Linked DNA regions of Homo sapiens. The protein of the gene in region 2 interacts with the protein of the main gene of each other region in a biochemical or structural test. Each region holds a gene or a part of one and is shown on either strand. Other genes may lie near its edges.

Region 1 (7,024 bases), on a different chromosome or scaffold from region 2:
CTGACAGATGTCCCCTCCACCCTGAGGCCTGTGTCCCAGGTGGCACTCAGAAGCCAGCACCCACCAGATGGATGCTGGCTGCAAAGCCAGCAAAGGCCAGAAGGGGGTCTGGGGGGCCCTGAGCACATCCCAGCCCAGGAGGCTATCGGGGGGCAGCCCCAGTCCCCGCCAGGCGCCCAGATGACCCGAGCTGTGCAGAGACCCCCAAGGCACAATCAGCACCAGCGCCTCAGGGGTCCGGACACTCCCACTCCCAGAGCCGGTCTCAGTGGGTGGCCTCGGGGCTCGGAGGGGCTCCAGCAGACGGCTCAAGGGCCTCCAGGGGCTGGTGCAGAGGAGCAGAGCCCACGAAGTGAGGGAGGCGGCACTGTGGGGCCTGCTGACCCCGTCCGCTGCTCTGTCTTCCCTGTCATGGAGCTGGGGGCCCTGGGCTGGATCCCAGCCACACCCTGCTGCTGGGAGCCCCAGGAGGAGGGGAAAAAGAGAGGCTCTCGCCAGTGTTTGGGACCAGCTGTGCCCTTCCTGGCGCATCTCCATGCCTAGGGCAGGGACGGACGCATGTCCTCACTCAGACCCCAGTTCGGACAAGGCGCCTGGGTCTGGCCGGTAACAGGACACTGCCCAGAGACCCCACTCGGGCCCCGAGAACTGCGGGCGCTGCACGGGGTCTGGCCCCAGCCCAGCCTGGCACCCCCACCACGCCCTGCTCTAGCGCCCGCTCAACCAGCTGCCCACATGGCCGGCCTCCCTGCAGCCTCGGCCCCACTGCCCCCAGGGGCCGCTCACCTGTGCTGCCGGATCTGCCGGATGGAGAACCTCTTGGCCGGTTCGTACTCAAGCATCCCTGAGGAGAAGCCGGCGAGGAGCCTGTCAGCTGGGCACAGGCCTGAGACCCCACCAACCGTCCCCGCCTGCCCAGCCTCTGTTGTCAGGCCCTGGGTGATACCTGGACGCTCCTAAGGGGGACCCCGCGCACAGGCGGTCTCCCTGACAGAGGCCACTCCACTCCTGGGACATGCCGGGGACAGCCTGTGCGCGGCTGGCAGGGAGACAGGGCTGGGCTGGACGGCCAGGGCGGTTCCGTTCTCCCAAGGCCACTGGGCAGATGGACGGACGGCCAGTGCCACCTGCTGCCATGCGTAGGAAGTGCAGCAGGACAACCCTGACAGACCCTGCAAGCCAGGGAGCCCCCGAGGGTGGGGCTGGGGGAGGCGCAGGGCAGCACTGCCCTCTGGGGTGGGAGTTCGGAGGGTGAACAGGGCCCAGAAGCAGGGTGGAGCTGAGGGACCTGGCAAACCAGGCCCTGCGGGGAGGTCGGCCTCTCCACTCAGTCCTCTCAATGCCTGCTGGGGTCTCGGGGCCAATAGCCCCCCACCTGACACCCCCAACCCTACATTTCTGCACAAAAGCCCCGCCTCCCTGGGGCTGCGGGCAGAGGGATGAGGCTCCCACCTTTCAGCAGGTCAGAGAGCGGGGGGCCACAGTCGCCCGGGATGGCGTAGCTCCCCTTCCCGATGTTCTCAAACAACTTGTAGATGTTGTCCCCTTCGAAGGGGTACAGACCCGTGGTGATGTTGTAGCTTCATTTCGAGGGGAGGGAAGAAAGGCGTGGTCAGTCAAGGTGGTTGACGCCCTAGGAGCCCCAGCTCTACCCCAGGGACAGAGGCGTCCCGTGGCTGCTGGACCAGAGGCCCTGTGGACTCAAGGACACCTCTGTCTTCACCACCTTCCACTAGTGGAGGCTACGGGGTAGGAGGGGAGTGTCCTCTGGACCCACCCGGGGAAGGGGCCTGGAGCTGCTGTCACCCGCCCAGCTTCCCTGTGGGGCTCTGGGAGGAGGGTCGGCCGTGCCACTCTGTGAAGATCCCTGACGGGCCAGGCTGCACTTCACACGGGTGAACCACCATCTGCCGTATGAGTTACATTTCCATAAAGTAAGCACCCCCTAGCGGCTGTGGCCAGAGAGGGTCTGGGCCGGTGGCCACGCCCTGCGCCCACAGGCCGGCAGCTGCCCAAGACGCAGAGGCCCCTCGGAGTGTGCGTGTGGTGAGTGCCCGGGGGGGCGGGGCACTTACAGGGTGACCCCAGCCGACCAGATGTCCACCTTGAAGCCGGAGAAGGTGTCCAGGCCGTTGGCAATCTCGGGCGGCTGGAAAGCCGGGGAGCCCTGGCTGGTCCGGCAGGTGTCGTCCGCCGCGAACGGGTGCAGTGCCTGTGGCGGTGCCGTGCAGCCCTCAGGGAGTGCCCGGGAGGGGGCGCCCCAGGGCCCCCCCTAGCACGTGCCTACCTCGGCCACGCCCAGGTCGGAGATTTTGAGGGTGCCACCGGTGGTGAGCAGCAGGTTCCCCGGCTTGATGTCCTTGTGCACAATGCCCTGGCTATGCAGGTACTCCAGGCCGTCAATCAGCTGACAGAAGTACCTGCGGGCAGCACACACCCGTCCTGGGGCCGAGGCCTCCCTGCCCCTCACAGGGGTCCCCTTTGCAGCTGCCTGGGAGCCTCCCAAACACCACAGGCCCAGCTGGGAAGTCACAGAAGTCCAGGCACACAGGACAGAGGAAAGGCTAGGTCCAGCAGGGAGCCACACCTGCGCCTGCAGTGGCCACCCTCGTCCGGCCGAGCCACGTCTGGCAGGGCCCCGGATGTCCACAGGTCTCATTTTCCTGTGGGCCACAGGCCGGCTGCACCCCAAAGTCTTGCTGGAACAGCAGGCCCCTCCCTGCCCCTGTGGTCCTGCAGCAGCAAGGGGCCCTGACTCTGAGGCCACAGACCTGCATCCAGGAGATCTGGTCAGGGCAGGCGGCTGCCAGCGATGGGCTGGAAGCAGGCCACTGGCCTCAGGCAGCAGGCCCAGCAAAGATGGAGGCGGGAGGTTGGCAGCAGCCCTGCCTGTGGATGCCACACATGGGGGACCCCAAAACTGTTTTTAAAAACTTGGGCCTTTACAAGGCCGGGCGTGGTAGCTCATGCCTGTAATCCCAGCACTTTGGGAGGCTGAGGCAGGCGGATCACGAGGTCAGGAGTTTGAGACCATCCTGGCTAACACGGTGAAACCCCGTCTCTACTAAAAATACAAAAAATTAGCCGGGCGTGGTGGCGGGCGCCTGTAATCCCAGCTACTCGGGAAGCTGAGGCAGAAGAATGGCGTGAACCTCGGAGGCGGAGCTTGCAGTGAGCCGAGATCGCACCATTGCACTCCAGCCTGGGCGACAGAGTGAGACTCCATCTCGAAAAAAAACACAAAAAAACAAAAAAACAAAAAAACTTGGGCCTTCATGTCAATGAATATCAGGACAAGCAGTGTGGCCTCACGGAAAGGAGCCTGCCCTGCCTGGCCCCCGGCCCCCGCCCCACCCTGGCCCCTGCCCCGCGCACGCACCCGTGGGCCTGGCACACTGGGAAACGCTTCTCCGGCACGCTGTCCAGCATTTCCTGCATGCCACACACGCAGTACTCCATCACCATATACGTGGGGCGCTAAGGACACACAGCTCAGGGGGCGGCCCCACTCACAGGCCCAGGGAGCACGGGGGCCAGAAAAGGGGCTCTGGAGGGACCCTCTGCACCCACCTTGCCCCTCCTCGGGACCAGGGCCCACCCTGCCCTCAGCCACCCCTCTGAAAAGGCCCAGGGGCCCCAGCGTCCCAGGAGGAAGGAGCCTACGGGGAAGGGGAGGACAGGGCTGACTCTTGGGGCAGCGTTCCTGCGGGGCTCACGTCCCCCACCCTGCCCATGGGCGGGGGATGGTGCCTCCTGGACGCCCCCCCAAGCAGGCTCGGGCCCATGCAGGACGGTCCCAGGGCCCCTGACCGCGTGGCTCAGGGAACACAGCCCCAGCCTCAGGACCACTTCTGGCTCTTGCTCTGGGCACAGGGCCTTAGGAAGCAAAGTCCCCGTAGGGAGGCTGTGCCCGTAAGACCCATGGGGGTGTCCACAGATGACACGAGGACACGCCCAGCCACGACCAAAATGGCCCACAACGGTCAGCCCGCGTGGCCTGTCTCAGGCAGACCGTGGCTACACCCCTGGTTAGCCTGGGAGGAGACTCTGAGAAAAAAGGGACTTGACACCCCACGGGCCCAAGACACAGGGGCCAGGGCTCAGGGCCCCTTTCAGCAAGCTGCGCAGCCATTGCCACAATGGCTGACTTCCGGGGAACCAGGGAAGGCCACGGCCCTCGTGTGCCAGTCTCCTTCAAGGAGACGGGAAGAGGAGCAGGCCTCGAGGCAGGCGGACCCAGGGCCCCAGCCCCTCCCACGGAGGCCCCGCGGTCCCAACACCGGAAAGGATATATTTTCTGCTTCTCTTCGTTGTATAACACATCCACCAGCTGGATGACATTTTTGTGCCGTAACCTCCTCAGTAGTTGAATTTCCCTGGGACAGAGAGGACAGGGGTGTATCAGCCGACCCAACGTCAGGATGATGGCCTGGATCCCTGGAGTCGGCCTCCCCATCTCCCTGTGGAAGTGGCGTACCTCCTCCCTTCCCTAGAGAGAAGCTGTGAGTTCACAGTGCTGTGGGAAAGGGCCCTGCAGGGGCCACGCGTCCAGGCTCAGGGCGGTAGGGGGTGGGAGCACAGCGCCCTCTAGTCTGTCATCGGCCGGCGAGGGCTTTGGAGGACACAGTTAGGACACTTTTTTTTTTTTCTGAGACAGAGTCTTGCTCTGTCCCTAGGCTGGAGCACGGTGGCCCGATCTCAGCTCACTGCAACCTCTGCCTCCCAGGTTCAAGTGATTTCCCTGCCTCAGCCTCCCGAGTAGCTGGGACTACAGGCACGTGTCACCACAGCCGGCTAATTTTTTTGTATTTTAGTACAGACAGGGTTTCACCATGTTGGCCAGGATGGTCTCGATCTCCTGACCTTGTGATCCGCCCGCCTCGGCCTCCCAAAGGACACTCTTAATTGAGCTTTGTAACTCAGTAACAGTTTTGCTTCCTAGAAACCAGACTACTGCAATGGTAGCACAGATGGAGCCCAGACTGTGGCAGGAGCCAGGGTGAGTTGGAGCCCTGGTGATGGCTCCGTCACACAGTACAGTCCCACGCAGCCAAGGGCTCCCAACTCCGAGGGTCCCACTCCTTGGAGGGTGGGCCGCAGGTGAGCTGGAAGGATGGCCCATAGGAAGGGGCAGGCGAAGAAGGAGACGCCACAGAAAGAGACATTGTGGGGTCCTGCCACACCCACCCGCCTGTCACTGCCCCCTCTGCAGCTGCCGCCCAGTTGGCCACGCCCACCTGCCTGTCACAAGGGTGGGGCACAACAGGCCAGAGAGCACAGCCCCCTCTGCAGCTGCCGCCCTGTCGCAGACACTTCATTTCTCCCAGCACTATAGGAGGCCGAGGCGGGTGGATCACCTGAGCTCAGGAGTTCGAGACCAGCCTGAGCAACACGGCGAAACCCTGTCTCTACTAAAAATACAAAAATTAGCCAGGTGTGGAGGTACGTGCCTCAAGTCCTAGCTACTCGGGAGGCTCAGGTGGGAGGATCACTTGAGCCTGTAGTTACCTGTGATCGTGCTACTGCACTCCAGCCTGGACAACAGAATAAGACCCTGTCTCATAAAAGAAAAAATTAAACAAAAACAAAAATGACGAGGAGCAAGGTCCTCACACCCAGTGGGTGGGCGTGGAAGCGTCTGCAGCTTCTCCAAAGGTCTGTTACCCTGTGAGCCAGCAGCTCCACTCCCAGGTACACACCCTGAGGAACAGTACACGCCACGCAGAAACGGAGCACGAGATGCTCACAGCAGCAGGACGCACAGCAGCCGAGATGTGGAACCACCCAGGGGCCCTTCCACAGACGAGGATCAGCACAGCCCATCCACGCACTCAACAAGACTCAGCCACAAAAACCAGTGAGGCTCTGACTCGAGCCACAGCCTAGCTGCACCTTGAGGATGTCACAGTGAGACACTAAAGGACACACAGTGTGTGATGCACTTTTTTTTTTTTTTTTGAGACAGGGTTTCCCTGTCGCCCAGGCTGGAGTGCACCTCCCAGGCTCAAGCGATCCTCCCATCTCAGCCCCGCAAGTAGCTGGGACTACAGACGTGTGCTACCATGCCCAGCTAATTTTTGTATTTTAGTAGAGACAGTTTCACCGTGCTGCCCAGGCTGGTCTCGTTTGAACTACTAGGCTCAAGTCATCTGCCCACCTCGGCCTCGGAAAACGCTGGGATGACAGGATCCCATTTCTTGTTTTTTTTTTTTTGGAGACGGAGTCTCACTCTGTCGCCAGGCCAGAGTGCAATGGCATGATCTCAGCTCACTGCAACCTCTGCCTCCCGGGTTCAAGCGATTTCTCCTGACTCAGCCCCTGAGTCGCTGGGACTACAGGTGCCCGCAACCACGCCCAGCTAATTTTTGTATTTTTAGTAGAGATGGGGTTTCACCATGTTGGCCAGGATGGTCTGGATCTCTTGCTCTCGTGAGTCACCGCGCCCGGCCGACAGGATCCCATTTCTATGCAATATCCAGGACAAGCCAATCCAGAGCCAGGAAGTGGATTCAGAGTGGCCAGGAGCTGGTGGAGGGGATGGAGAGTGACACAATGGGAATGGGGCTTGCTTTTGGGGTGACCGAACGTTCTGGAATTAGAAGTAGTGGTTGCACAGCCGTGTGAATGTACTTAATGCCACTGAATTGTACACTGTGAACGAATGAGTTGTACAGTATGTAAATTCCATCTCCATAGTTTTTTTTTTCTTTTTTAATTCTTAACAGGAAGCCCAAGCATGGAGCATAAAAAACAGCTGGGGGGCCAGGCGCGGTGACTCACGCCTGTAATCCCGACACTATGGGAGGCCGAGGTGGATCACCTGAGGTCAGGAGTTCGAAACCAGCCTGGCCAACATGGTGAAACCTTGTCTCTACTAAAAATACAAAAATTAGCCGGGCGTGGTGATGGGCGCCTGTAATCCCAGCTACTCAGGAGGCTGAGGCAGGAGAATCGCTTGAACCTGGGAGGCGGAGGTTGCAGAGAGTCGAGATCTCACCACTGCACTCCAGCCTGGGTGACAGAG
Region 2 (7,272 bases):
GCAACATAGTGGGACCCCATCTCTACAAAAAATTTAAAAATTAGCCAGTCGTGGTGGCGAGCACCTGTAGGCCTAGCTATTCAGGAGGCTGAGGAGGGAGAATCGCTTGAGCCCAAGAGGTCGAGGCTGCAGCAAATGAGACATGATCGTTCCACTGCACTCCAGCCTGGGTGACATAGTGACAACTTGTCCCTGCACCTCCTCCACAAAAAAAAAATCTGCTTAGTTCTATAACATTAAAATAATAAATACATAAGAAAAAGAAAAATGTGCACCAGGCATCTTGGTGCAGGCAGTTAATTTCAGGGGTACATATCCACGTACCCATCATCCAGAAGCCCTGTAATTTAGAGGAAGCAATGTGAAAAGGGGACAATGACACAAGACAAAAGGAAGTCAAAGAGTGGCATGTTTTGGTCATCCTGACCCACCAGCCCATGGGGAGGACCGCAGGCTCCCCATCTTTCATCCCCACCACCTGACCCCTCTGTCTGGTTCATTCCTCTAGTGTCTCCAGTCTGGGAGACACTAAAGGGACATAGGACATTACTTGACCCTATTTATCTCATCCATCTGACCTTGCAGAGCTGTCTCCCAAGGTTACCCCACTGGATTCCACCCTTTAAGGCTCTGGAACTCAGCTCTTCCAGACCATGAGGAAGCTAGGCCTTGAGGATACTTCCATCCTTCTCTCACAGTCACATGGCATAGGTCACCCACAGGATGTCCCCAGCTAACCCAACCCAGAGAACCAAATCCAGCCCTATGCCGCTCATTCTTTGAAACCTGCCCTGGGGAAAGCCTGCTTCTCTGATGGCTCCTGAGCCACCTTGATGTCTGATCCAGATGAATCTATAGCTTCCTCTCCCTACTCATCACAGTGCTCTGATATTCCAGTCTCCTGAGCAAGCCACAGCCTGCCTTTATATGAACATTTGCATATCAAAGCCTCACATTTACATTTTATAACTTAGGCTCCTGGGAAACAGGTCAGAGCTCAGCCCCCAATCTACTAGCGTAGCCGGGAAAGAAGCATTTACCTGTGCAACCCCCACCAAAGATGTGCTGGAGGGTGTCAGGGAGTACGCTGCATGTGTCCACGAAGCTGTGTGTCCAGGAGGGGACTGTGAGCGTCCTGCATCCAAGAGTGTTCCTGTGTATCTCTGGCTCAGGTGTGGCCTCCATCTGGCCTGTTGTGTCTGCATGCCTGTGAGTCTGTGAGTTCAAAGTGTCTGCATGCCTGTGAGTCCATTTGGGGTGGTCCTCAGTCTGTTGTGGGGGGCCTTGGGGTAGATGTGTGTTTGTGAGGGCTCTGTTTCCTCATTTGTAAAATGGTAATGAAAATCCTAATACTTACCTCACAGGATCGTTATGAGGTTGCCTGAGTTAATGCAGGTCATGCACTTACAGCAGGGCATGGCTGTACATGTCGGTTATTGTGACTCGATTCCCAACAGAAATTCCAGCCCCTCTATACCCTCCCCACCAACTACTTCCAGTGGTGTAAGAGGCTAATGTTCCCCTTGGAAATATCACTGTTTTGAGCCTGGACATTCAATCAGAGGTCAGTGACAGCAGCAGTATCTTCTCTTAGCCTGAGGGAGGAAGGCCACTCAGCCTCTGCCAGGGCTGGAGAGGATTGGGAATGTGGAGGGGGCACTTACTCACCAGGGAGCCAGGGGCCCTCCAGAAGAATATAAGAACTCAGAACCTGCAGCCTGGGCAACATAGTGAGACCCTGTCTCTACAAAAACAAACAAACAAATGAACAAACACATTAGCCAGGCATGATAGTGCATGCCTGTAGTCCCAGCTGCTTGGGAGGCTGAGGTGGGAGGATAGCTTGAAGCCAGGAGTTTGAGGTTATAGTAAGCTATGATGGCACCACTGTACTCCAACCTGGGTGACAGAGGGAGACCCTCCTGTCTCTCAAAAAAAAAAAAAAAAAAAAAAAGGCTGGGCTTGGTGGCTCATGCCTGTAATCCCAGCACTTTAGGAAGCCAAGTGGATCACCTGAGGTCAGGAGTTTGAGACCAGCCTGACCAACATGGTGAAACTCCGTCTGTATTAAAAATACAAAAAATTAGCCAGGTATGGTGGCGGGCACCTGTAATCCCAGCTGCTCGGGAGGCTGAGGCAGGAGAATCGCTTGAACCCGGGAGGCGGAGGTTGCAGTGAGCCGAGATTGCACCTTTGCACTCCAGTGTGGGCAACAAGAGTGAAACTCTGTCTCAAAAACAAAAACAAAAAAACTCAGAACCAGAGGGGCACTGGCATCCCTAGAGAGGTCCCATCCTACTGAAGTGCCCAGTACCAACTTAAAGACCTACTGGACTCTTCTTCGTTGTCATGGAGACCACATCAAAGCTGCCTTCCAGGAAGAGCCCTCTGTCCTCCTCTCCACTTCTCTTGGCCAGAACTCACACTTGTCTCTAAACTGGTTCCATCCAGCCCAAAGCTGGGATTTGCTTGGGCTTGTTTCTCCTTCCTTGGGCAGGGTTCCTGCTAAGCTCAATTAATTTGGTCTTTATTGTACCTATTCACTACACAAGCATTTCATGCCACCCTCATAAGCATGCTAACAGGCTGAGGAGGACTTTCAGAGGCAAATGAGCTCTGGAGAGCTCTCCATAGATAAGGATGTCTATACCATGAGGCAGGATGAAAAACATCCACACCAGAGATATAGTCAAGAATGTTGTATATGGCTAAAGGAACTGATTCAGGCTATCATGGAAGGCTTCCTGGAGGAGAGGGACAATAGACATGAGCCTTATAGAATATTACAGCACCTATAGAAAGGGAAGTTTACTTCCATTTGCACAAGCAGATCTCATGGAATGAGCCCTTATGAACACTAAACAGCAATTGTATGTTTTAGCCTTAGTTCTGGCCAGACAGGCCCAAAGAGCTTACATGTGTCATTTCCTTCTCTGAAACTCCACTGCCTCATCTGTAAAGTGGCGGGTGTTAGGTTAGATGAATTTGGGAAGCCACTCCTGCTGGCCTGGCATTTGAACATTCTTTTGTGTTTATCACAAACAGGCAGGATAAAAAATCAGGCTGTCCTCAAAGGAGTGCATAGGCTGGAGACATAGAGAATTGTCTCAGCAAAAAGGCCTTTGAGGATTCATGTCCTTTGTGCCCCCATGGCCACAGCCCAAGCACCCCAGGTCCCCTCAGATGTCTGTCTTGGACATAGCTGCTTGCCTGGAACCCAGCACTGTATCTGACACGATAAATGTTTATTGAAAGAAGTGGTGAATGGATGAGATGACAGAGACTATGACCAGCTTCTTAGCTAAAACTGAAACCCATCCTGCCTCCAGATCATCAGAACCTTTGGGGCTTTTGCTCCTTTTGCTGGCTCTCAGATAAGAGGGAAGATGGCTGAGAGGGAGCTACACTTTCGGAAATCATCTACCCTGGGGCTTCTGGTTTCTGCTGCAATCAGTAGAAAGTGGGTCACAAAACAGCTCTGCAGAGAACAGACCCTTGAGGAAAAGCCTGGATTCTGTGCCAGTTTACATTTATTGATCACCTACTGTGTATCAGTTGTCACATAGCTTAACTCATTTAATCATGGCTTCAGAGGGGTGTACAGGAGAGTGTGAGGGATTTGAGGCTGTAAACCCCAGAGGTGCTGACTAGCTGAGTGACCTCAGGAGAGTTACCATCCCTCTCTGAGTTTCATTTTTAATATCTGTAAGATACAAACGATCCATTTCGCCGGGTTATGGGAACGAAATGAGCACGTGGAAGCGGAGCGCTTCATAAATGCTAGTTATTATTGTTCCTCTGGGCACACAAGCCCGGTCGCCTCCCTCCTGGGCGCACACAGACATGTTCATACTCCCACGTACACGCAGATGCAGAGACGTGTGCAGACGCCAGCCGGAGGAGCACGCGGCGCATCAGACCCAAGACCGTGGCGAGACGGTGAAGAAGCCGCGGGGTCCTCGGCTTCTCTCTTTTTCTCTCGGTTCTTTATGAATGAACTCCAGCCGCGAGTTTTATTTTTTTATGAATGGGAGCCGGAGCACTGAATGAAGCCGGGAGCCAACCCCTACATTCTGATTGGCCCCCGCGGCTGGGAAACTCCGCCCCCCGGCCAGGCCGGACGACTCTCCGGATTGGCGGGCGTGCCCAGCCCTGGGGTTCCATTCACAAAAGTCAATGAAACAAAGGGAAACGGGGGGCGGTGTGGCGGGGCGGGGGGTGGAGAGCTGAGGCCGAGCGAAGGAAATGCACCAATCAGCTGCTCCCCCGGGCTCACAACTGTCTGCTGCGCCCGAAAAACAAGTCGGTGCGCTGGGGACCCGGGGCCGGGGCCGCCTTACTCCGGCCTAGCCCCGCGGCCCTCGGTGCGGGCTCCAGGGCATGCTCGGGACCCCCCGCGGCTCCAGCCCAGACGCCCCGGCCTCAGGTGAGGCTGCGGGAGGGAAAGGGAGGGAGAGTGTCTGTGATTCCCCGCCTCGCCTCCAATGCACACCACACTCACTCTCACCACCCGCCTCCGCAGATTCCAGGGCGGGGGTGGGAGGTGCTGGGATTCAGGGTTGGAGGGGGCGCGGGAGTTGTGGGCATGCGATGGTGTGCGCTTCGCCTGCTCCTCCGCGCGCGCGCGCGTACACACACACACACACACACACACACACACACACACACACACACACGTTCTTATGTAACCGAGCCCGGGTAAAGCAGGGCTGCAGAAAGCAGAAACGGCGAGCCCGGCTCCTGGGAGCAGGTGGGACCTCCTTTGGCCTTTGGCGGGAGGGGAGTGGTGGTGGCGCTCGGCCTGGCAGGCGGAAACCTCGCCATCGCCCCAGTGAGTCGGAGAAGTTTCGCCGTCGGACCCAGAGCCTTGGGACTGCCCCCTCCCCGCCCCCATCGCAGCCCTCCCTGGACGGTGTGCGAACGCAGCCCCCTCCCCCACCAGGTCTCGGCCCCCGCTTGGGGCCCCGGCCGTGCGGCCGGAGGGAGCGGCCGGATGGAGCGGAGGATGAAAGCCGGATACTTGGACCAGCAAGTGCCCTACACCTTCAGCAGCGTGAGCGCCGCGCCGGCCTCCACGCCCGCCCCGCCCCGCACCCAGCCCCTACTCTCACCACAGCCCCCCTCCCCGCAGTCCCAGCGGAGTCCTGGGCTGCCCCGCCCCTGAGTCACCCGAGGACCCCAACCTCGTCCCCCAGACTAAGCGCCTCAGGGTGACTCGCGGGCATTCTCCCCGCTTCTCGCAGAAATCGCCCGGAAATGGGAGCTTGCGCGAAGCGCTGATCGGCCCGCTGGGGAAGCTCATGGACCCGGGCTCCCTGCCGCCCCTCGACTCTGAAGGTAAAGAGCAAGAGAGACAAACCGCGACCCTCCTCCGCCACACACACACACACACACACACACACACACACACACACACGGCCGATTCTGGAACCCCCGCCTGTTTCCCCAAAAAACTCGCCCTCCAAGGGATTTTGGTCATTCTTCTCGGTCCCTACTCCCAAGGCAGGGGAGTCACCGGGTCTTGCTAGGGCCCCTTCTCTCTTACCGTCCCCTCCACCTCACCTCCAATTCCACTATTTACCCCTCAGATCTCTTCCAGGATCTAAGTCACTTCCAGGAGACGTGGCTCGCTGAAGGTGAGTAGTTTTGTGACCTTTTCTATTTTGGGAGGCTGGACAGGGGGACACTCCGTAGCCCCTGGTATTCCACCCTAAGCCCTACACTTCTCCTCTCCCTTCCCTGCCTCAAGGAGTTCTCCAAGGCCCTCTCCCCAGGTCCCTTGCCACTCTACTCACCCCAGCACCCAGCGTGGACACTTATATTGATATTTATTTTCTCTACCCTGAGCCAGGCTTGTGTAACTAGGCTTGAGGATGAATCAGACCATTGTGTGGGGTATTTGCTTATTTGAATGGAACTTGGCCCCAGGCCCATTTTCCTGGTTGAAATTTTCATTTGTAAAGTTTGTTTTGCAGAAGCCGCCAGGCCAAGGTGCATGTTGGGGTGTTGTTGGTGGGGGGTGGGGGGAGAAATTAATTTGTCACTCATCCTCCAGAGTTGCCCAAGCATTGATTCTTATCCCCTGGGTTTCTCTTCTTCCCAACCCCCAGCACCAAACAATTTACTGTCCAAGCCAAAAGAACAACAAAAGTTTAAATAATTCTTTTCGGCAGTCCTTTGGCACAGAGAGCCCAGGGCTCCCTCCCCAAATAGCCTTGATTGTAATTCTAATAGCAAGTGTTCCTCCCTCTTCCATCCCGCTTGAATACCTCTGCCTCCAGGCAAATTCCCCCCTTCCTGTGTGCTGGGGAGTTAGCTGTGAGCTGGCTGGGGTGGGGTCCGTGGCTGGGTCCGTGGCTGGGTCTGATGGGGAAGTGGTGTGTTCAGGAGGTTTCCTGGTTGGATTCTTCAGTGCGTTTTGGTGGGGCCTGAGGGTGTCGCTGGTGGGGCTGCAGGTGGGAGGGAAAATGGTGGTTTAGACAGTCTCTGAGAGGGAAGGGTTAACTACCCCCATCTTAGGGTTTATTTTAACACTATGAAAATGAAGAAGCCAAAACACTAGGAACTCCTTTTTTGAGGTCTTTTTGAGGTATTTTCCTTAGGATCTCCTCATCCCTCCACCCTGGGTATCTAATTTTTTTAAAGCTCAAATCCAACTACCCTGGAACTCTCCATAGAAGCTCGGAGTAAAAAGAAAATGACCCCTGACTAGATCCTTGGAGTGAGACTAGGTCTGTCTTGCCCACTATGATATTCTAAAAATATATATGTTGACAGAATGACTATTTAGCATAGAGCAAGCACTCAAGACATTTTGTGGAAATAATGGCTGAATGGCTGTGTGAGTGCTGGAGGGATCTGGAGGTTCTGAGGGTATTGTGTGCATCATCCCCGACCCTGCAAGTCCTGCATGCCCAGCTCCAATTTACAGGCAGAGCTTTGCCCCGTCTCCCCATCCTTCTTCTGAGGTTCTGGAGCTGGGCTAGAGCTGAAGAATGCAGAGGTGTCAGTTTCCGTGGGCTCTCAAAGACTTCCTTTCCCAGTGCCTGATTTCTCTCTGGCTCACCGGGCTTCATTCCTTGCCTGTCAGCTGAGAGTCCCCACAGTGGGCAGCTCCTAGGGCTGTGAGCTAGGGGTGGGCTGAGGTTGGCATTTTGGCAGCAGCTGGTCCATCTGTGCCTGGGTTTGAGATGGGAGGGGGAGGAAAATGCTCTCATCTCTCTACCTTGGAAGTCCCACCCCTTGGCCAGGGGTCTGGAGAGGGTACAAATG

The links.
Region 1: of the proteins of ETV4 (region 2) and STK11, one has a biochemical effect on the other in vitro, tested with the Homo sapiens proteins (one study listed by BioGRID).

What each region holds. Positions count from the first base shown.
Region 1 is NC_000019.10:1,215,769-1,222,792, reverse strand, and holds part of STK11 (serine/threonine-protein kinase STK11), read right to left. Parts: intron 6,526-7,024; exon of another isoform or gene 6,395-6,525; intron 4,377-6,394; coding exon 4,293-4,376; intron 3,470-4,292; coding exon 3,380-3,469; intron 2,421-3,379; coding exon 2,288-2,420; intron 2,213-2,287; coding exon 2,076-2,212; intron 1,581-2,075; coding exon 1,453-1,580; intron 845-1,452; coding exon 787-844; intron 1-786. UniProt on the Homo sapiens protein: Tumor suppressor serine/threonine-protein kinase that controls the activity of AMP-activated protein kinase (AMPK) family members, thereby playing a role in various processes such as cell metabolism, cell polarity, apoptosis and DNA damage response.
Region 2 is NC_000017.11:43,543,339-43,550,610, reverse strand, and holds the start of ETV4 (ETS translocation variant 4), read left to right. Parts: upstream 1-4,270; 5' UTR 4,271-4,426; intron 4,427-4,711; exon of another isoform or gene 4,712-4,831; intron 4,832-4,942; 5' UTR 4,943-4,993; coding exon 4,994-5,053; intron 5,054-5,243; coding exon 5,244-5,337; intron 5,338-5,588; coding exon 5,589-5,636; intron 5,637-5,811; exon of another isoform or gene 5,812-6,449; intron 6,450-7,272.